3 linked regions of the Homo sapiens genome follow. The protein of the gene in region 2 interacts with the protein of the main gene of each other region in a biochemical or structural test. Each region holds a gene or a part of one and is shown on either strand. Other genes may lie near its edges.

The links.
Region 1: of the proteins of MAP3K1 (region 2) and CHUK, one has a biochemical effect on the other in vitro, tested with the Homo sapiens proteins (3 studies listed by BioGRID).
Region 3: of the proteins of MAP3K1 (region 2) and MAPK8, one has a biochemical effect on the other in vitro, tested with the Homo sapiens proteins (3 studies listed by BioGRID, with this or other methods).

Annotation. Positions count from the first base shown.
Region 1 is NC_000010.11:100,219,574-100,226,600, reverse strand, and holds part of CHUK (inhibitor of nuclear factor kappa-B kinase subunit alpha), read left to right. Parts: intron 1-583; coding exon 584-678; intron 679-3,620; coding exon 3,621-3,735; intron 3,736-4,419; coding exon 4,420-4,489; intron 4,490-5,924; coding exon 5,925-6,013; intron 6,014-7,027.
Region 2 is NC_000005.10:56,881,537-56,888,563, reverse strand, and holds part of MAP3K1 (mitogen-activated protein kinase kinase kinase 1), read right to left. Parts: intron 6,995-7,027; coding exon 5,698-6,994; intron 5,038-5,697; coding exon 4,885-5,037; intron 3,901-4,884; coding exon 3,738-3,900; intron 2,633-3,737; coding exon 2,501-2,632; intron 1,187-2,500; coding exon 1,044-1,186; intron 339-1,043; coding exon 207-338; intron 1-206. UniProt on the Homo sapiens protein: Component of a protein kinase signal transduction cascade. Activates the ERK and JNK kinase pathways by phosphorylation of MAP2K1 and MAP2K4. May phosphorylate the MAPK8/JNK1 kinase.
Region 3 is NC_000010.11:48,302,567-48,309,699, forward strand, and holds the start of MAPK8 (mitogen-activated protein kinase 8), read left to right. Parts: upstream 1-4,110; 5' UTR 4,111-4,255; intron 4,256-4,662; exon of another isoform or gene 4,663-5,722; intron 5,723-7,133. UniProt on the Homo sapiens protein: Serine/threonine-protein kinase involved in various processes such as cell proliferation, differentiation, migration, transformation and programmed cell death.

The DNA.
Region 1 (7,027 bases), on a different chromosome or scaffold from region 2:
TCAGAATTGGCTAAATTACTAGTCACAGGCAAGAGATGTTAGGTTCATTATGTAGCTATGGAAGCAGAAGTACACTCATTGGTAGGATTTTTTTTCTTCATGTCATTTGAAATGCATACATTAGGATTGGAGTTTTTTGCTTTAGGCTTGGTTATATTAAAACTTTCTCTTGCTGTTTGGAGTCCAGGAAGCCCTGAATTACCTTCTTCATTTTAGTTATGCTAGAAGCTGGGGCACATATTAGTTGTCTTGATTAAGCTCTGAAAGGGGTTTGCTGAGGAGACAGGATCTTTTTTTTTCTAACATTATATATGAGAGAGAGTTCTGAAAAGACCTGTTATAAAATCAGTTTCAGGCACTTTTCCCTTGTATGCTGTTGTGTGTTTGAAGGTCAGTTTTAAAGCATTGGTGTAATAGTCTCATGGTTTATCTTTTTAAAAAGCATTGCCTCAAGAGAGCTGTGGATAAATATATTTAATTAGTAAAGCTAAAAAGTTTTGTTGTCTTAAGTTATTTCTTTGGTAGCAAATAAATCTTCACAAGAACCTAATTTTTTTTTTCTGTTGATTTTCTATTTTGGCAGGAACTTGATCTCAAAATAGCAATTAAGTCTTGTCGCCTAGAGCTAAGTACCAAAAACAGAGAACGATGGTGCCATGAAATCCAGATTATGAAGAAGTAAGTGTATTCCTTGACTTACATTTCCCTGGTTCTACAGCCCAACCAGATGTCATCATGGGGAAAGAGGCCAGGAATCCACTCTTCTCAGGATCTTTTTGGGAACATATATTTTTTTCTCTCATTAAATATATTCTATTTCAAATAATAATATCACATTAAGATTAAGAAGGTTTAGTTAAAATCAGCTAGGACACTTACACACTGTTGGTGGGAATGTAAAATTGTGCAACTGTTACGGAAAACAGTACGGTGATTCCTAAAAAATTAAAAATAGAATTACCATATGATCCAGCAATTCCATTTCTGGGTATATACAAAAATGAATTGAAAGCAGGGACTTAAAGAGTAATTTGTACACTCATATTCATAACATTATTATTCACAATAGCTGAAAGGTAAAAGCAACCCAGTATCTACCAGCAGAGACATGTATAAACAAAATGTGGTATATTCATGAAACGGAATATCATGCAGCCTTAAAAAGGAATGAAACTCTGACACATGCCACAGCATGGATGAATCTTGTGGACATTATGCTAAATGAAATAAGCCAGTCACAAAAAGACAAATACTGTGTCATTCCACTTATGTGTGGTACCTAGAGTAGTCAAACTCACAGTGAAAGAAAGTAGAATGGTGTTTGCCAGAGGGTGAAGGGACCAGCAAATAGAGAATAATTTTTAATAGGTGCGGAGTTTCAGCTTTGCAGAATTAAACAGTTTTGTGCAGTATAGTGATAGTAGCAAAACATTGTGAAAGTATTTGATGCCAGGCTGGGCATGTTGGCTCACACTGTAATTCCAACACTTTGAGAGGCTGAGGTGGGTGGATTGCTTGAGCTCAGGAGTTCGAGACCAGCCTGGGCAACATGGCAAAACCCCATCTCTACAAAAAATATAAAAACTAGCTATGTGTGGTGGTGCATGCCCGTAGTCCCAGTTACTTGGGAGGCTGAGGTGGGAAGATTGCTTGAGCCCAGGAGGTCAAGGCTACAGTGAGCTGAGATCATACCACTGTACTCCAGCCTGGGTGACAAGAGCAAGACCCTGTCTGAAAAAAAAGGAAAGCATCTTGATGCCACTAAACTGTACACTTAAAAATGGTTAAGGTGGTAAATTTTATGCTATGTGTGTTTTACCACAATCAAAAAACTATTTCATTTCAGTTAACAAAAGTCAGCTAGGGCCGGGCGTGGTGGCTCACACCTATAATCCCAGCACTTTGGGAGGCCAAGGCGGATGGATTACCTGAGGTCAGGAGTTTGAGACCAGCCCGGTCAACATGGCAAAACCCCATCTCTACTAAAAATACAAAAATTAGCCAGGTGTGGTGGCGGGTGCCTGTAATCCCAGCTACTTGGGAGGCCGAGGGAGGAGAATTGCTTGAACCCGGGAGGCGGAGGTTGCGGTAAGCTGAGATCATACCACTGCACTCCAGCCTGGGCGACTCCGTCTCTAAATAAATAAATAAATAATAAAAAATAAATTACCCCAACATTTAGTGGCTTAAAATAGCAAACATTTAGTATCTTATAGTTTCTGTGACTTAGGAATTTGGGAGTGGCTTAGCTGGGTGATTCTAGCTTAGAGTCTTTCCTGAGACATCTCAGGATATTGGTCGGAGCTGCAGTAATCCAAAGGCTTGACTGGGGCTGGAGTATCTGCTTCCATGCTCACTTATATGAATGTTGGCCAAAAGCATCAGTTCTTCGCCATGTGGGCCTCTTCATGGGGAAGCTTGAATGTTTTCATGACATGGAAGCTAGCTTTCCCCAGAAAGATCTTTTCCTCAGAAAGAGTGAGTGATCTGAGAGAGAGAGAGAGAGAGAGAGAGTGAACGAGCGAGCAAGATGAAAACCGACGTATCTTTTATGATCTTTACTTGGAAGTGAGACTCCATCCTTTTCCACCACATTCTGTTTGTTACAGTGAGTCACTAAGTACAGCCTACATTCAAGGGGAGGAGAGTTAAGCTCTTAAAAAGAGAAGTAGACATATTTTAAAACTTCCACAGGTAGTGTGCTAAGTACTTTACAGATCATTCTTCCAGTTATCACAGCAATCTTATATTTAGGTATTATTTTGCAAATGAGGAAGTTGAAGCTTATAGAATCACATAGCTGGTGGTTGGTAAAGTGTGGATTTGAAATAAATACTTTCTGACTCTAATATCTGTGCTTAATTCCATTTTGATTCTCAAACTTGGTTATGTGGCAGAATCACCAGGAAAGCTTAATAGTATAAATTATCAGGTCCTACATGTACATGGAAATTCTGTTTGCTTCTTTTTCTTTTTTTCTTTTTTTTTTTAAAAGAGATGTGGTCTTGCTATGTTACCCAGGCTTGACTTGAACTCCTGGGCTCAAGCAGTCCTCCCACCTCAGCCTCTGGAGTAGCTGGGACTATAGGCATGCGCCACCACACCCGGCTAATTTTTAATTTTTTGTAGAGATGAGGTCTCACTGTGTTACCCATGCTGATCTCGAACTCCTGGCCTCAAGCAATCCTCCCACCTCAGCCTCCCAAATTGTTGGGATTACAGTTACAACTACACCCAGCCTAGAACGCCAGATTTGACTTACTCACTGTGTGATCTTGTTACTTAGCCAATTTGTGCTTCAATTTTCTCCTGTGTGGTGAAAGTATTAATAAATCTACCTATAATAGGATTATTGTGACAAGTAACTGAGTTAATATATTTAAAATGTTTACTGCTTGGCACTTAGAAATGTAATAGTAGTAATAGTGATGGTATTTTTATGTGTGTTTTCTTTTAAAAAATTACTAATTTTTAATTATACAAATCAGAAATTAGAATATTATAAATAATACTGATCTTTCCCCCTCTGTTCATCCACCCACAATTAAGTAGCATTTCAAATCCAGTCCCTTTTTATTGGAAATAATTTTTTTTATTGTAATGTTTTTCTTTCTTATTAGGTTGAACCATGCCAATGTTGTAAAGGCCTGTGATGTTCCTGAAGAATTGAATATTTTGATTCATGATGTGCCTCTTCTAGCAATGGAATACTGTTCTGGAGGAGATCTCCGAAAGGTAGTGTGGATGTTTTGAGATGAGAGAGAGTAAATCACAAACTTTAGCAATGTTTGAATCATGTTAAATATAATAAACTAGAATAAGAATCGGAAAAACTATGGTCTGCTTCCTGTTTTGTAAATAAAGTTTTATTGGAACACAGCCACATTCATTTCTTTACACATTGTCTATGGCTGCTTTCTTATGGCTGCAGAAGTGAGTAGTTTTAACAGAGACTATGTGACTTGCAAAACCTAAAGTATTTACCATATGGTTCCTTACAGAAAATGTTGACTCCTGATTTAGAAAATGCATTTTTGTTGTTGCTGTTTGATGGGACTATAGCAATGGTGTTAGATGAAAATTTCAGTGGTTAAGGTGCTTATAAAAAGTTGTTTTCTGTATTGCAATCTTTTTTTTCTACCTAATTTTAAATGTGCCCATATGACCATTTTTATATATATCCATGAGATTTGTCAGCCTTTTCCAGTTTCAAATGCTTTTTGCCTCTTTTTACTTTTATGAGCCTTATCATGAAATTTACATGCCCTCAGTATGGATTTGGTAATTTTATTCCCTTGTATTTTATTATGACTTATTTTCTCATTTGAATATTCTTTTAGAGTATAGTAATTAATGTGTGGTCACTATTGCAGCCCAGCAATTTGCAGAACAGATTTTTAGATTTCTTTCTTTTTTTAGCTGCTCAACAAACCAGAAAATTGTTGTGGACTTAAAGAAAGCCAGATACTTTCTTTACTAAGTGATATAGGTACGTATCAGTATTAAAATACCATTGTAATGTAATGTCCCTTTGGCCCATAAAAGATCTTTTTGGGAATTCAGGAGAATTGTTGATACACTATACAAAGTCTATAGAATTTCAACATCTATAAGAAGTTATAAAAATCTATTACTATTGATGCTAAATTAAAACTAGGATATTTTGGCTAGGTGCGGTGGCTCACGCCTGTAATCCCAGCACTTTGGGAGGCCAAGGTAGGCGGATCACAAGGTCAGGAGTTCAAGACCAGCCTGGCCAACATAGTGAAACCCCATCTCTACTAAAAATACAAAAATTAGCTGGGCACAATGCCGCATGCCTGTAGTCCCAGCTACTCGGGAGGCTGAGGCAGGAGAATCGCTTGAACCCAGGAGATAGAGGTTGCAGTGAGCCGAGATTGCACCACTGCACTCCAGCTTGGACAACAGAGTGAGACTTTGTCACACACACACAAAAAGAAACTAGGATATTTTATTATTTATTTGTGGCTAAGAGTCCTTTTTTTGTCTAATAGATGTTCCAATAGCTGACAAAAAAATCATGTGAAATGACCTTACTCAATTTCTCTCCCCCCCTACCATTGACATAGTAATTTTGTTTACAGTGGAATTACATCTCCTTGAGGGATGGGTCCTCAAGTCAACTCTTTTTTGTTTGTTTGTTTTGAGACGGAGTCTAGCTCTGTTGCCCAGGCTGGAGTGCAGTGGTGCGATCTCAGCTTACTGTAACCTCTGCCTCCCAGGTTCAAGCGATTCTCCTGCCTCAGCCTCCCGAGTAGCTGGGATTACAGGTGCCCGCCATCACACCTGGCTAATTTTTGTATTTTTAACAGAGACGGGGTTTCACTGTGTTGGCCAGGCTGGTCTCAAACTCCTGACCTCGTGATCTGCCCGCCTCGGCCTCCCAAAGTGCTGGGATTACAAGCGTGAGCCACCGCACCCAGCCAAGTCAACTCTTCAGGGTGAAAAATCTCTGCTTAATCAGAATGACTCCAGAAAAATTCCTAAAATAACCAGTACCTAACCTTTTGGAGGAACCTCAAAAACCAAAAATTTGTTTCCCCATAGATTTTGGTTTTGCCTCTTTTCCAAGGTCATGAGGGCTAAAGTCCAATTGAAATGAGTGATTTAGGTGGGAGAAAGAGGCTTATAAGAGTTTCAGGGATTTTCCCAATTGCTTGTTGCATTTCTATTTGGTGTTAATTCTAATGAGTTAAATGAACATATAGTATAATTTTGTAGTATTTGTTTAATGTTACTTTTTTTTCTGTGAAGAAAACCTGGACACTGTAGTATTAGTTGTGTAGTTACGATGATCCATATAAACTTGAGCATCAGAGTAGATTTGTACAAAATGTGAGGTGAATTTTTCTTTTAACTCAATGATTTCTGTTACTTTAAAGTATATTTTAAACTTTATTTAGGGTCTGGGATTCGATATTTGCATGAAAACAAAATTATACATCGAGATCTAAAACCTGAAAACATAGTTCTTCAGGATGTTGGTGGAAAGGTAGGTGAAACCTGAAGTAATGTTTCATGCCTATTGAATATAGTCTCTCTGATATAGTTAGTCCTTGAGCTTTGGTGTCTTTGCTGTATGCCCATAACAGTCTTACTTTTTCCATTTCAGACCTCACCACACTGAACTGTAGTTTTGTGTTTAGTTTTTTTGTCCCTTCTGCTAAACAGTGGTTCCATCAGAGAAGGAACAGCACCTGCTTTTTTTTTCTTTTTCTTTTTTTTCATTTTTCATACTTAACCCAGCTCCTAGACTTCACCTGTCTTGTTCAAGTCTGTTTTTCCATCATAGTATCTAGCAAAGATACAGGCTGTGAATACATAATATGTTAACACTTATTATTTTATTCTTATGAAGCACATCCAAAACACATACATGCACATCCTGGGTCCACTTTAAGAAAAAAAAGAAAGTATATATATTTTTAAAACTTATTTTCCTTCCCCCAATTTAAATGAGTCATCTGGAGAAGAACCAGAAATTGTGAATTGACTCTTAAAATGTTCATTTCATTGGTAACTTAAGCAGTTTTCTTGTTTCCAGCATCCAAATTTCATTCCAATAAAGACTTAAAGGCCAAGAGTCTGAACCTTGTGTTGAGTTGTGTGTGCCGTCTCTTTAGTTAGTGAAAATAGTTGTTGGCCTCTTGGAGGTGTTGGAACCTTGGTGATGCCTCTTCTCTTAGGAACCTTTCACGTATGCTTGGCACCAAATATCTCTGCTTTTTTTTTTTTTAATCCAAAGACTTCAGGACATTCCTGAAGTTAGATCTAAGTATTTACTCACATTTAATCTACTATAAGGAGGTATGATGCTTCTTCAAGTTTGGAAGTCACCCTTGCCTTTACTTTCCAGTTTAATGGATTGAGCTTATTTTGAATATAGTAAAATAAAAATTAATAGCCCACCTGTATTCAATTTTTACCATGTACCAAGCACTGTGTTACCTTCTTTACTTTCGTTATTTCATTGGATCCTAATAACAATTCTGTGAAGCAGGGACTG
Region 2 (7,027 bases):
CAAAGTATGGTTTTTACCAAATTTGTATTGCTTTTGCACCATCTTAAAGTAAAAAACTTGTATATCAAATCCTCTCTGAATAAATATACAGACTATTTATTTACCTTCATGCTAGATTGTTAGGGAGAACCCATCAAAATTTGCCTCCTGCCAAATTCTGCTGTACTCCTTTTAGCACAAAGAAGTAATTTTTATCTCACAATTACCTTAAATATCAAAGCAAGATGATTGGAGTGTTTTTCTGCATTCCATGGTGGTTTTGCACAAGCCATTTCTATAATAGCACAGCCAACACTCCATACATCACAGCTCCTTCCATACTGTTGACCTCTTAGTACCTAAAATAAATCAGAGTTAATTTGGAAATAGGACTCATTTGAAAAAGAGAAGGCCATTTTGTAGTTATAGATTCTACTTCCTTACTTTAGGGAGAAAACTGGTACAAACAGGAATTCTGTGGACTACCTAATATCTAATTTATTTCATTAATGAGCTTAATTTTCCAGGTAGCACAAAAATATTTTGGAGAATTGTGAGATTCTGAAGCAGAGTCCCATCACAGAATTTTGCTCTTAGCAAACTATGTGGCAAGAGGACAACAGATCATTACTACATATGAACATGAAGAATTATGAACACGACAGAAGAAGCTGAGTCAGAAGAACAATGCTTAAACTCCTTCCACTACAGACAGGAGCTGCCTCTGTATGCTCATCTCCTTTTAGAATAGAGAGAGAATATTTTTAAAAATTTCTTATGTGCACTTTGAGTTTATTACAAAACAACTGCTATAAATTACCCCAGAATTCTTTATTAGTAACAGCCGTTAAGTAAATCTATTAAAACCTGTTTTTTGAATATTGCCAAGGCAAAGAAAGGTCGAGAATAAGGGTCTGAAAGATATTATTAAAACCGTATTTTAAGGGCCACGGACTTCTAGTTGGTAAGTACATACTGGATACCACTGCAAGATAATTTAGTATAATGCTGTTACACAGAATTCCAAAATATTTTCTGTCATCACACTCAAAGATGCTTCTCACCTCAGGTGCCATAAATGCAATTGTCCCCAGTAATTGTCCCTGAAACTCTCCTGCACCAGTTCCTTTTGATGCCAACCTGGCTGCAGCTCCAAAATCTGCAATTCTTAGTCTCTGACCAGTGCTGTCAATTAGCAAATTGGCACCTGTCAACAAACACAGCAAATGACCTTGTATGTTAAAAACAAAAATAAGGACAGATAAAAGCCCAGTACAATACTAATGAACTAGGACAATGACAAAAGAAAGAAGTGAACTACATGTCAGAGGTGCAAACAGTTATTCTCTTTTCCTTTCACTTCATTCTTGCTAAAGGCACACAGCTCTCTCTAGCGTACGCTAAATTCATAATTAGAGCTTAATTTAAAAAGTTATAAAATTACTTCAACACATTATGTCAAATACTAGCTAAAAAGACTAATGACAGAAAACCAAATTTGCTCTTGAGAAAAATAAACTGAGGCCAGGTACGGTGGCTGACGCCTGTAATCTCAGCACTGTGGGAGGCTGAGGCAAGCGGGTCGCTTGAGCCCAGGAGTTCAAGACCAGCCTGGGGGCAACATGGCAAAACCCCATCTCTACAAAAAATATAAAAAATTAGCCAGGCATGGTGGTGCACACCTGTTGTCCTAGCTACTTGGGAGGCTGAGGTGGGAGGATCACTTGAGCCCAGGAAATGAGTTACAGTGTGCCAAGTTTGCAACACTACACTCCAGCCTGAGTGACAGAGAACCTGTCTCCAAAAAAAAGAAAAGGATAAGGAAAATAATGGGACCTACAAAGGATTTGAAGGAATTTTTCTTAAAAGAAGTTGATGATATCCCAATATCCCAATTATTCAAAATAAAACCAGGAAAAGGAACTTTCTGGGAGTCAGCGTATCATGAGGCCAAGACAGGGAATCTGGAGACCTGTGTTGTATACTTTCTGCCATTAACTAGCAATAAAACTGTAGAAAAGGCACAGCCTCTCTTGTATTCAATGTACTTTTCTATTAAACGAGGAAGGCAGATTAAATGATCCCTAAGGCTCATTTCAGTTCTAATATTCTGAATTACTCAGAGAAAAAAATCCCACTGTTAGAAACTATCAACAAAGGTCCATTTTTTTGTTCTTCTTTGAGACAGAGTCTCACTCTGTCACCCAGGCTAGAGTGCAGTGGTGTGATCTCAGCTCACTTCAACCTCTGCCTTCCGGGTTCAAGCAATTCTCCTGTCTCAGCCTCCCAAATAGCCAGGATTACAGGCATGCGCCACCTTACCCTGTTAATTTTTGTATTTTTAGTAGAGACAGGGTTTCACCATGTTGGCCTGGCTGGTCTCGAGCTCCTGACCTCAAGTGATCCACCTGCCTTCACCTCCCAAAGTACTGGGATTACAGGTGTGAGCCACTGTGCCTGGCCCCAAATTTTAAAATTAATTTTTTTATTGTCACTAGATAATAATTAGAAGAATTCTCACCTTTGACATCTCTGTGAATGATTTGGTTTTCATGGAGATACGAAAGGCCACGGAGTAACTGTTCAGTGTAGTTAATAACTACTGATTCTTTGAAGGCTCCATATTTACTCAGCAAATGAGCCACCGATCCCCCTATAAGACAATAGAAATAATTATCATAAACTTAAGACAGAATTAAAAGTATTTATTACACTTTGGTTTCTAAAGTTTTCACTGCATGAACTCACATTCACATCTGAAACAGAAGAAAAACATTTCAAAACTAACATATTCCTGTATCATCTCAAAAACCTACTAATTAGGAGACATTTTCACAGAACCCACAGGGAAACCAGTTTATTGGAGAGTCAAGATTTCAGAAAGCTGTAAAAGTTAACAATTTCGGATTAAACTATTTCTGAAATGTACAATTCAATTCTCTGTCTTCTCAAAATACACAAAACAACTTTATTAATGACTAAAGTAAACAATGTTAACATATTATGTAGTAAAAGGTGGAAAGAATGGGAGGAGGAACAGAAAACCCAGAGTTAGGCGTCATATTCTACCATTTACTAGCTCTGACCTGGAACATGTCTCAAATTTAGCCGCTTTTAAAAGTGTTTATAGTAGTCAACCTATCTACTGTAGTGTAAATCTTTATTAAGACCAACCAACAGATAACATACTTAAGAACTGACTGGTAAAGAGAAATGCACTCTTAAATACACACACAAATCTAAGAAGTTAAACCAAACAATCTGTTCATCACATCAGGTCATTAATTTTATTGTATACATTGTATAATACAAAATAAAACTCAGTCTTCATTTATTTCAGCAGATGACAAGGTTCAACTTTATGCTTCAGTGCTAGTTTACTTGTAGTAAGTTTTCAAGTTATATGTTAATTTTGTTTGTATATTGTTATGTTAAAACACTTCCTCATCTGTCCAATTTATCATGGCTACCTGGAAATATACATATCTTATACATATCAAGTATTAAAAACAACAATGCTACACAATCATTTAAAAACACACTGGAAAAATTTAAAAGGTAGAGGTAGTCAATATTTCATTTATAGTAAATGAAATACAAAACGAAGTATTTGTGGTTCATACTAATATATTGGGGTGATTTGTTTTTAGAAACCCAAACTATTTGATAGAAATAAATTTTAATTAAACTGGTTTTTCCTAAATTGCAGAAAGTTAAATCCACGTACTACTATTTTGTAATTTAAAACATTAACATACCTGCCATCCATTCAATGAAGAGATTGTAATTGCTCTTCTCACACGTGGCTCCCAACATCCTAATGATGTTTGGATGATTCAGATGGCTCATCATTCTTATCTCTTCTCTTAGTGCTTCTACTACTTCTTCTTGCTCAGAAGATGTGTTTCTGACATAAGTCACCTGTTTCAAATAAACACGTTCACAAAGTTTTGCATATTTTCACTAGCAATCTGATCTAAAATGAACAAATGCAAACTAGCACTTTATTAGCAACAGATGGCATTTATGCTTATGGATGCAATGTACTTTAAACAAACCCAAGTCAAACTCTTTTAAACACTAAGAATCTAGCTTAAGCAGCAGTAAACATCAGAAAAATGACAAAAATATTGGGATATAGTCAATATTCCAATAGTCTCAGAGTAAAGATGAGAAAAGCCCAAATATGGGAGAAGAATCAACATGATTTAAAAATGAAAGTTTAATAATTTTCCTATCCTGATTAAGTATGCTCGTTATAATAAAAAGTAAACCACTGAAACCCCAAGATGGCACCGCACAAGTACACTGTTGAAAGAAGTACCTGAAAACCACCTCTACTACCTACAAAAAGCAAAACCAAAAAAACCTTTGTAAGGCCCATCTTGATATTGTAGTCTTACAATAATCATACTTCAACTTTTATTTATTTTTTTTTGAGACAGTCTTGCTCTGTTGCTCAGGCTGGAGTACAGTGGTGCGATCTCGGCTCACTGCAACCTCTACCTCCTGAGTTCAAGCAATTCTTCTGTCTCAGCCTCCTGAGTAGCTGGGACTACAGGTGCCTACCACCCTGCCCGGCCGATTTTTGTATTTTTAGTAGAGGTAGGGTTTCACCATGCTGGCCAGGCTGGTCTTGAACTCCTGGCCTCAAATGATCCAACCACCTTGGCCTCCCAAAGTGCTGGGATTACAGGTGTGAGCCACCACGCGTGGCCTCAACTTTTAACAATAACAGAATTCATGATGTTTCTGGTGCTTTAGAAACATCTACTTTGAAACTAAGTTTCTCAAAGTTTAAAGAACTAAAGTACACACACGTGGACATATCCTTTATTCTTTTTACTGAACATGCTTCATTTTGTGATTTGAGTCATTTCATTTATATGCTCACTAGATATTTACCTGTTTAACAGCCATTAAAGTTCCAGTTCCCACATCTTGAGCCTGATAACAAGAAGAAAATGCTCCAAGGCCTATCTGTTGACCTTTCAGCCATTCAGTGTCTTCTCTATACGGTTGTTTTGCTTTGGTATGTCCTGGTAGAGTCTCTGGTGTCTACATATTAAACGAAAGCAATCTTTTTACTGTTAAAGGAGTAAGATTTTGTGAAATTAGTCTGCAAGATATTATTCTTATTCAGTCTGGCTTCCCAAACCACCTATAAATGTGACCTCTGAATGGAAGGTATTTGTGACCGACAGCAAATGCAAAAGTAATCACCATTATACAATTAACCGGAAATGCCCATAGGCAAGAATTATTGCTGTTTAAACAGTACAAACATTATTGTTGTATAAGTAATAATTTTATGTGGAAAACTCTGCTTCTGAATGTTAGAAGCAGCATTTCTGAATTAGGTTTATTTTAGTATGGTCCAAGGAAGCTCTCTGTGAGACAGTGTCTTGCTCTGTCATTCAGGCTAGAGTACAATGGTGTAATCACAGCTCACTGTAGCCTCAAACTCCCAGGTTCAAGTGACCCTCCCCACCTCAGCTTCCTGAGTAGCTGGGACCCCAGGTGTACACTATCATGCCTGGCTAATTTTTAAAATTTTTTGTAGAGACAGGGTCTTGCTTTGTTGACCAGGCTAGTTTCGAACTCCTGTGCTCAAGCAATCCTTCGGCCTCAGCCTCCCCAAGTGCTGGAATTCCAGGTATGAGTCACTGTGCCCAGCCCCAAGGAAGTTTTCTAACCTCTTAAAGAATCTATACTTACATCCTGTTGAATAATGATGATATCTTCTCCATTTTCAACCTGCAGCTGAGGAACTATGGGGAGGGCATCCTGAGACGCTGACATTGCCATGGCAATTGCTAAAGCTTCTTCTTCTTCAGCTTCCATCTTCTCTTTGCACTTTTGATTATGATTCACATCATCTTTGTAGGTATCATCATTTTCAGCCTTTTCAGGAGACAGGACAGCAACTTCTGACTTAAAAGTTACTGTTGTATCACTTGAAGGCATAGATGCTTCAAGAAGGTCCTCAATACTGGAGTTGAGCTCTGTATTGACATCTAATCTGCATTTCTCCTCTACTGGGGTGAACACTGTCTCGTCACTGGGTATAACAGCATTACTACTATTGCTGCTACAGCCAAAGCTGTCATCACATTTGGAACTACTGTTCAGATCAAGTGTCATGCTATTTTTTGAGGGATCTCCCTGTTTACTTGTATTACCTGGGGTAGGTCTAGATGGCTTTGGCCTGTGTATGTTACTGGAGGGCAAGGGTCTTGACTGAGTAAAGACTGGGGAAAGTTTATCTGAGTCTTTGTTTTCAGGACAGTTTCTGTGGAATTGTAGAGAAAACTTGCGCTGTGTTTGAGGAGATGCAGAAGGTATTCTGCAGGGAATGAATCCCTGAAGTCTATGCTTAGAGACATCTGTTGCAGTGCCAGCTGGTACAGATGGGGTAGAAGAAGAAGGGGTTGACAAGGCTGGAAACATTAATTGGGAATGATGAGATAAAGGAGAGGAGTTCAAACACTGACTGTGGGGTCTGCCTTTTGTTTGAACCATTGGCTTTGGTTGCTCTGTTGTTGTTGTTGTTGTTGTTGTTGAACTAGAAGGTCCTACTGAAATGCTGGCCAGTCTCTCAGAAATGTCCTCTGAACTGGCACTCAATTTTGTAGCACATAATCCTTTTCCAGTTTTCTCTAAATGGACTGTGCACTCAGGGGAACTGTTCTCTGTGGTTTCCAGATAGTTGTTGGGAACAGATGCCTGCAAGAAGCTGTCCTGTTGACCATCCAAAGTGTCTTCTACGCCCAACTGGATGGCTTCGGCAATTTCCACCTCATCTGCAATAGCCATCAAACGGCGACGCATCCTGGTGAAGTGAGTGGAACTGGAAACACTCAGCATTTCTAACAGTTTTGAAAACACATGGGGTACTGTAGTAACCATTCTTGCAGAACTCAAGTAGATCCTTCTGGAAAGTTTGCCAACCATTGAGTGGGAATTATCAATGGACTGCAAAGCAAAGGTTAAGAGGGACAGCAGCTTCTTATACCTGAAAGAAAAAAACATTCATTACCATATAAGT
Region 3 (7,133 bases), on a different chromosome or scaffold from region 2:
ACAGATTGCTGGGCTTCTTCCTCAAGGTTTCTCACTCAGCCGGTCTAAGGTGAGTATGAGAATTTGCATTTTCGACAAGTTCTCAGCTGATGCTGGTCTGGGGAACCACAATTTGAAAACCATCGTCTTAGAGGAATAAATGCTGACCTTTTTTTTTTCCCATGGAAATATGCATGTGTACTCAATCTATAAACTTGACTAGCTTAGTTGGTTCTCTCTTGCATGTACCTGTAAGCAAAAACAGGGTACCACTTGTAACTTCAAATCAGAGTTCTGCCCATTCTGTCTCCACTTCATTTTGTTCAAGTTGCGACTGAGGAGCTCGGGCCATTTTTGGCCCTTTCCTACCCCTGAGGAGCCACAGTTCTTGCAGCTGGAGGATGGATTTACAATACGAACACTCATCTTTCCTCTACTCATGCATCCAGGGTCTGTCTTGCTTTATCGGGAGCCAGCAGGCTCCACCTTGAAAGATTCTCAAAGAACATCCCTGAGTCAGGGACTGACTGACCAAGGTGCTGAACCTCTCCCTCCTGTTGGGGGAAAAGTAGACTTGACTGGAGACATGGGTGGGAGACGAGACTGGGAGGCTTGAAAGCAAGGCTAACAGAGAAGGATGGTGGTGGAGGTGGAGTCAGGGGAGAGGGAGTGTCCTTGGAGATGCCCTTCTGCAGGCTTTAGTTGGTAAGTACCTTCCCACCAACCCAACTCCCCACCCCTGGGGTGAGGTCAGGGAATTAGGAAGTAAGTTGAAGTCTCAGCTTTCAGTTTCTGCACCCTGAACAGCTTGGTGATATTCACCTGACTACCTTAGCCAAAGAAACATCTTCAGTGCAATCCATTGTGTGTGGTCTGGGATGACAAGGGAAGAGATACTCTGGTGGAGTGCAACCTCTTCTTGAACATCCCTCAGGGCTCCAGCAGAGGCTGAGTTTGAAAGGCCTACAGTTCCTCTTCTCTCCTTTCCCCATCCCAGCCTCAGAGGTATCCAAAGACCAGGTGTCCCCAAGACAGCTCCCCTGGGACAAGAGACAAGAAACCTGAATTCACTATATTTTCCTCTTTTTCTGAGTCAGCCCCTTAATAGGTTAACAAGGAACCCTAACAGGTTGACAAGAAAGAATTGCATGAAAAGGAAGAAGAAGGCCCAACACTGCATCTGGGTTACAGAAAAGCATTTTGAATTTGCAGAATATCAGAGATAATTACATTCCATCAGAAATAGCAAAATGCTTTCTGAAATCAATCATACACACACACAAACACACAAACGCACATATGTAAATATGTGGAATGTTCTTTCTAGTTGTAGATAATCAGAAGCTGACCATGGTAGACTGATACTAAGTCAGAAGCTCACTCTGTGGAGTGAGACAGAGGCGGTTATTAACAATAGCATCACAGAACTGGGCGTGAAACTCTGGAGCTCTGCTCCCAGCAACTCCCCTCACTTCACAACAGCTCTAAGGGTTGTATTGTTTTTTGTTACCTCCAGGCCTTTAATTTGTCTGGTGAAGAGTAGGTGGTACCTCTGTCTGTGCACTCAATCACACCCCGTTCTCTCTGGAAACACACGTCTTCCTTCTCTTTTGTGTGTATTCAACCTCTCCCTCTCAACAGTCTTCCCATCAGATGTAAAATATGCTTGTGTCCTACTTCACTGCCCGACTCATCCATATTCACCACCTTTATTTTCTCACCTCCCATTCATTTCCCAGCCCACTCTAATTCACTTCTGGTTCTATTACTCCAGGATTCCAAGCCTCCTCTTATGTTTAATATTATTGATCAGCCCTTTCTTCTTGAACACCTCTCTCCTGGTTATCCTTCTATCTCCCTGGCAGCTCATCACAGACTCATCTTCCCCTTTGTGGCCCTTTAACACTGAAGTTCCCCAAGCCTGGTTGCAGGCCCTCTCCTCAGGCCTAGGCTGACCCATCTATCCCAAGGCTTCAAGGAATCACTCACTGTCAATGATTCGTCTCTTAACTAGCTGAACCTCAGCTCTGTATATCCAACCACCAACTTAACATCAGTTTTGGGCATCTCAAAAGCCTTCAAACAGCCAAACAGCCTGCTCTCATGATATTTTAATGCCAGTCTGGTCCTTTTCCAAGATTCCCATCTTGGTAAACCAGCACTAACATCCATCCTTGGCCACAAGCCAGAAACCTTTGAGTTTTCCTTGATGACTCCCTCTCCTTCATTGCCCCACATAACCCATCACTTGGAGAATGTGCAAGTTCTGCCCGTTGGACCTCCTAAATAATTCACAGATCTTTCCATGTCCATCAACTATTTCCATGACCATCACCCTAGATCAAGCTTCCACCTCTTACCGTCTAGGCTACTCCTACATCCACCTGGGCTCTTTCCAATAAGGAATCTTTTCAAGAAGCTATTCTGACCATGCCACACCCTTTGCTGAATATGTCAGGGGCTTCCCATTGCACTTAGGATAAAAAGATTTTCAACATGGCCAATATGGATGTCCTACGTTTGGTCCCTTTACCAATCTTCCTGACTTCATCTCATAGCTCCTTCTTCCTTGCTCCTCCAGCAGAGCTGGCCTTTCCTGAATTTCTCCATCTTATCCTGCTTAATCTCATCAGAGGACCTTTGCGTGCAAAGCTACCTCTAAAATATTCTCTGTCTAGTCAAACCTATTCCCAGCTCAAGTGACAGTTCCTCAGGGAAATCTTTTCTGGCCTTATTAACTAGTGTATTAATTGGTTTCATAGTATTATGTATCCTTAACAATTTGTATTATAAAACAGTGATAATTTTGCGTTTACTATTATTACTTTCATAGTACAGTGATTAAATCTGTAAACTCTACTGTATTGCCTGGCACTGAATGGGCATGCAATAAATAATTATTGCAGGAACAAAGGATGGCAGGAAGGAAATTAAGAAGGTTGAGAGGGAGGGAGAGAGGAAATGGGAAGAGAATGAATGAATAATCATCTGTATGTTCCCTTTCAGAATCACCAGAAACAGGCCAGCCCCACATGTAATAGGAAAGTAGTTTACCTGAAATCATTCATTTATTCAACAAATATTTATATATTCATTATTAAAGTAACTTACTTGTTTCTGATTGTGAACATAACTATTCCTCTCGGAAAACATGAGAAAATACCCAAAGTATAAACGAGAACCAAGTCACCCTTTATTCCATAGTCCAATGATGAACCATTGTTAACATAATTTGGTGTATTTCTTTCCAGGTTTTTTCTATGTGTATATATAGTATCTAAGTGGGACCATTCTATATATGACTTGTTTCTTGCTTCTTTCTCTTAATGATACATTGTGAACATGTTCCTATGTTGTTAAGAATTCCTTGAACACATGGCATTTAAATTGCTAAAATGTATTCTACCGAATGGTGTAGGTAGTTCAAACGCCTTTCCACCCGTTGTTGGATATTTAAAGGACTTGTCAATTTATCGCTTCTGTAACATTTACACGCTTTGTGGGGCCTCAGAAGTAAACCAGGTAATGCAAGGAATCTGGGAAGAGGTGGATTTGCAAGGAATCTCGGAGGAGGTGGATTTTGGAAAAACTGGAGGCAGCTTTTCCCGGGCAGCTGAAGAGAACACTTATCTCTCTGTAGGTTTCTGGGACCCGGACAGGTGTCCTCAGAATGGAACATATTGTCGGTCAAGGTAACCAGCTCTTCATCACTCAGGTGTGTGTACCGGAAGGGGGTGCCTGTTCGCTGCGCAGGTTAGGCCTAAGCGCACCTGCCCTTCAACCCTGTGCCGACGAGGCCCGAAGGCTTAAGCTCTGACCTGGCTACCGCCGCCAACCAGATGCGGTCCCCTGGGGCCACGCGCCGCCACGTGCCGCCACAGGGCCCGCCCCTCCCGCTCCAGGCCACGCCCCTCACCCACAGCCCTCGGAGGCTCTCTCCGCGGCTCCGCCTCCAAGCGACCTCCGCAAGTCCTCTCGTAACCCCTGGAGTAGCGCCGTCCCCGGGCGGCGGCCCCGCCCCCGCAATCCGGGCCCCGGGGCTGCCCCGCCCCGCCGGCCGCTCGGGAGGCGCGGGGGCGGGGCCCTGCGCGATGACGTGCGCGGGCGTGCGCGGTGACGGCCCGCGTCTCTGTTACTCAGCCGAGCGGCCGAGGCCGGACGACGCGGCTTGGATTGCGGAGCCGCGAGCAGCGCTGGGTAACGGCCGCGGCGACCACCCCGGACGGCCCCTGTCCCCGCTGGCGGGCTTCCCTGTCGCCGTTCGCTGCGCTGCCGGGTGAGTGCGGCGGACGCCGCAGGGCCGGGACGGCAGGCGGCCCCGTCGTGTTTATGTTATTGTGCCGCTGCCGCCGCCGCCGCCTTCTCCTCAGCCGTAACCCCCTCCTGGGAGTGGGGGCGGGAGCGCGCGGTGGGCGGGGGCGGCGCGGGAACAATAGCGGCGCGGAGGCGGGGGCCAGCCGAGGGGGCGTGGGGCTGCGGGACCTGGGTGCGCTCCGCTGCCCGCCAGCCCGCCTGCCGCCGCGAGCCCCGCCCGCCTGTCCTCTCGCGTCCTCTTCGCGTGGGTCCTGCCTCCGCGGCGGGAGAAGAAAATGGAGCGGGGGGGTGGGTGGCAAGTTCTGAAACACTTCGGCAAGGGTCGGACGGAGGTGTCTTTGCGGCCCGCCGCGCCCTGGCTGCCTCCGGGGCGGCGGGGAGCCGGGGAGAGCGCTTCTGCCGGCAGGTCCCCAAGCCTGCCCCGCGCCCATAGGGACCGTATTTTGCTTCTCGATGCTTTCTTTGTGCTAACGTTCTGGGCGAACGCAGGCAGCAGCGCTGAAAAGGGCCAGAGTGGCCTGCAGCTCTGGGCTGCAGGGCAGAGAGCCCAGGCCCGTGGCTCGGGTGGGAGGTGTCCATCCAGCTTGGCCCGAGCTTCGGTGGTCAGCGCGCATTTCTCTTGAGGGTCATCGGTGGTGACCTTTTGACTTTTTCACCCCACCCTCCCATCTCTTTGTCTCGCATTTGTGTTCCCGATTCAGAGATGGTAGAACCAAGTCCATTTTAAAGTACCCTGATGAACACTTTCCGTTTTTATTTCTGAAAGTTCCCTGCTTGGTCTTTACTGCGAATTTAATAACATGTTGACTACATGGCATTGTCCAGTGATTACTATTTTTACCTCTGAAATCCAGCGATCTTTCCAGTAGAATTCTGGTCCGTCAGTCCATTGTGTTTTGAGATAAGCATCCAGCAAGTACCTCCTTGGCAATTAGAACATCTGTTTTTTCATTCATTCATTCATTCAGCAGCTGTTTAGTACCGTACTCAGATGAAGAGGTTTGGTGTGAAGGTAAAGTATCCTTTCATGGAAGAGGATGCTTTGACTGAAGTATAATAGATGGACCTTTAAATGAGACAGTTACATAAGTGATGTCTGTTAAGGAAGGTATGGTTATATTCTGGGTCATTTTTTAAGCAGTATATCTGGAAGTTCAAGTGTAATAGGAAGTAGAATTAGATTTGGTCTAAATATACAACAGCTTTTATTTATTTCTAAATTTTATTTTTTCCAGTCTTGCAGCCTTACAGTCATTTGTAATGGTTACCTCAGATTCCCCTGCTGTGGTTAACGTTAAACCTAGGAGGTCAGATGCTCTAAGTGAACATGTTTAGTGCTGTGCCTGACAAAAGCAAGCAATCAAAATGGGACTTCCTTGAGGGCAGGCCTGTCTTGCATCTGTTTCTCCACCACCTAGCCTGGAATATAGTAAGTGTTCAATAAAAGTCGGATTGATGAAAAGCTCTTTGTAATTGATAATATTTAAAATCAAGCCTTAAAAAAAACCGTAATGTTCTCCATAAAGTTTTGGAAGCTTCATGCAACTGTCGCATCAGATGGCTAAATGGTCAGTTCATGTACATTATCTGTTATGATGACATGGGCTTTTGAATCACGTGTAGGTCATTCACTGTCCTAAAATAAAATCTTGTCTAAATATTTTTTTAATATGATAAATAAAGTAGGTTGTGGAGTGTGTGTTTCTGTGTATGTGCTAGTTTATGTGTGTCCGTGTGTGTGCATGTACGTAATCCACACACAGGCACTCATAAACTGGTATTTCAGTAGGGGTCTAAAATGATTGCATTTATAATTTTGTGAATATTATTTGAAAGTTTTTTGGTGACTCTTATTGTGGAAAATTGAGGACAAAACCACATAAATGTTTTATTAGAAATATTTCTAATATTTTAGAAATGTTTACTTGAAATGTTTGGTTTTAAGTTCTAACTTGTATTAACACAATTGGTACAAAATATGAGCCTAAAACTCAAAATAATTGATTTATCGAAGTTAAAGCTCTTTTCCACTTACTAAATACAGTTTAGCGTTTGTTTTGTATTTGAAAGAATATGAAATGAGTTAACTAATGAGTTTCTTATTATTTGCTGTAAAGTGGAAATGAAGAAATAAGAAAATAATACTTTTTTAAGATGATGGTTGAAAATCTTTGAGATACCAAAGTTTTATTGCTTTACCTAGTTAGGGTATGTCAGATTCTAGTAGGGGTTACTGACAATCCTTTGGCAGTAGCTCACAGGCTGTGTAAAGAACCAGAGTTGTGTTACTTTGTTTTCCAAATTGTTGGTTTTTAAAAATAGCTTTATTGCAATTTAATTGACATAAAATTCACCAGTTAGAGTGTATATATTTCGGTTTTTAGTATTTTCACAGTGTTGTGCCTTGATCACCATCACTAATTCCAGAACATTGTCATCACCCCAAGAAGAAACACCATATCCATTAGCAGTCACTCTGAATTTCACTTCAAATTATCCTTTAAAGTAAGAGATATAGCATCGATTCTGTTAGTAAATATATTCCTTTAGTAAGTATGAAAAGGGCTCCTTTTAAATGTCCTGTCCTGGCAGAATAGGAAACTATATCCTTCATACTCCTTTAGATCCTGGGGGAAATGCCATTTGGAAAGGAAGTCAGTGCAAGAATAAATTGTATACAAATTAATGTGGTTATAATCTTAACTATTTGCTCCATGCCTGATATTATCAAAGTGACCTTGTGAGGATGAGATGTTCAGTGAAACAACTTGAAGGAATTTGTTGTTAAATGACTAGTCCCCAACTATCCTAGTGCTAAGAGGTTGTTGAATAGGAGCCTG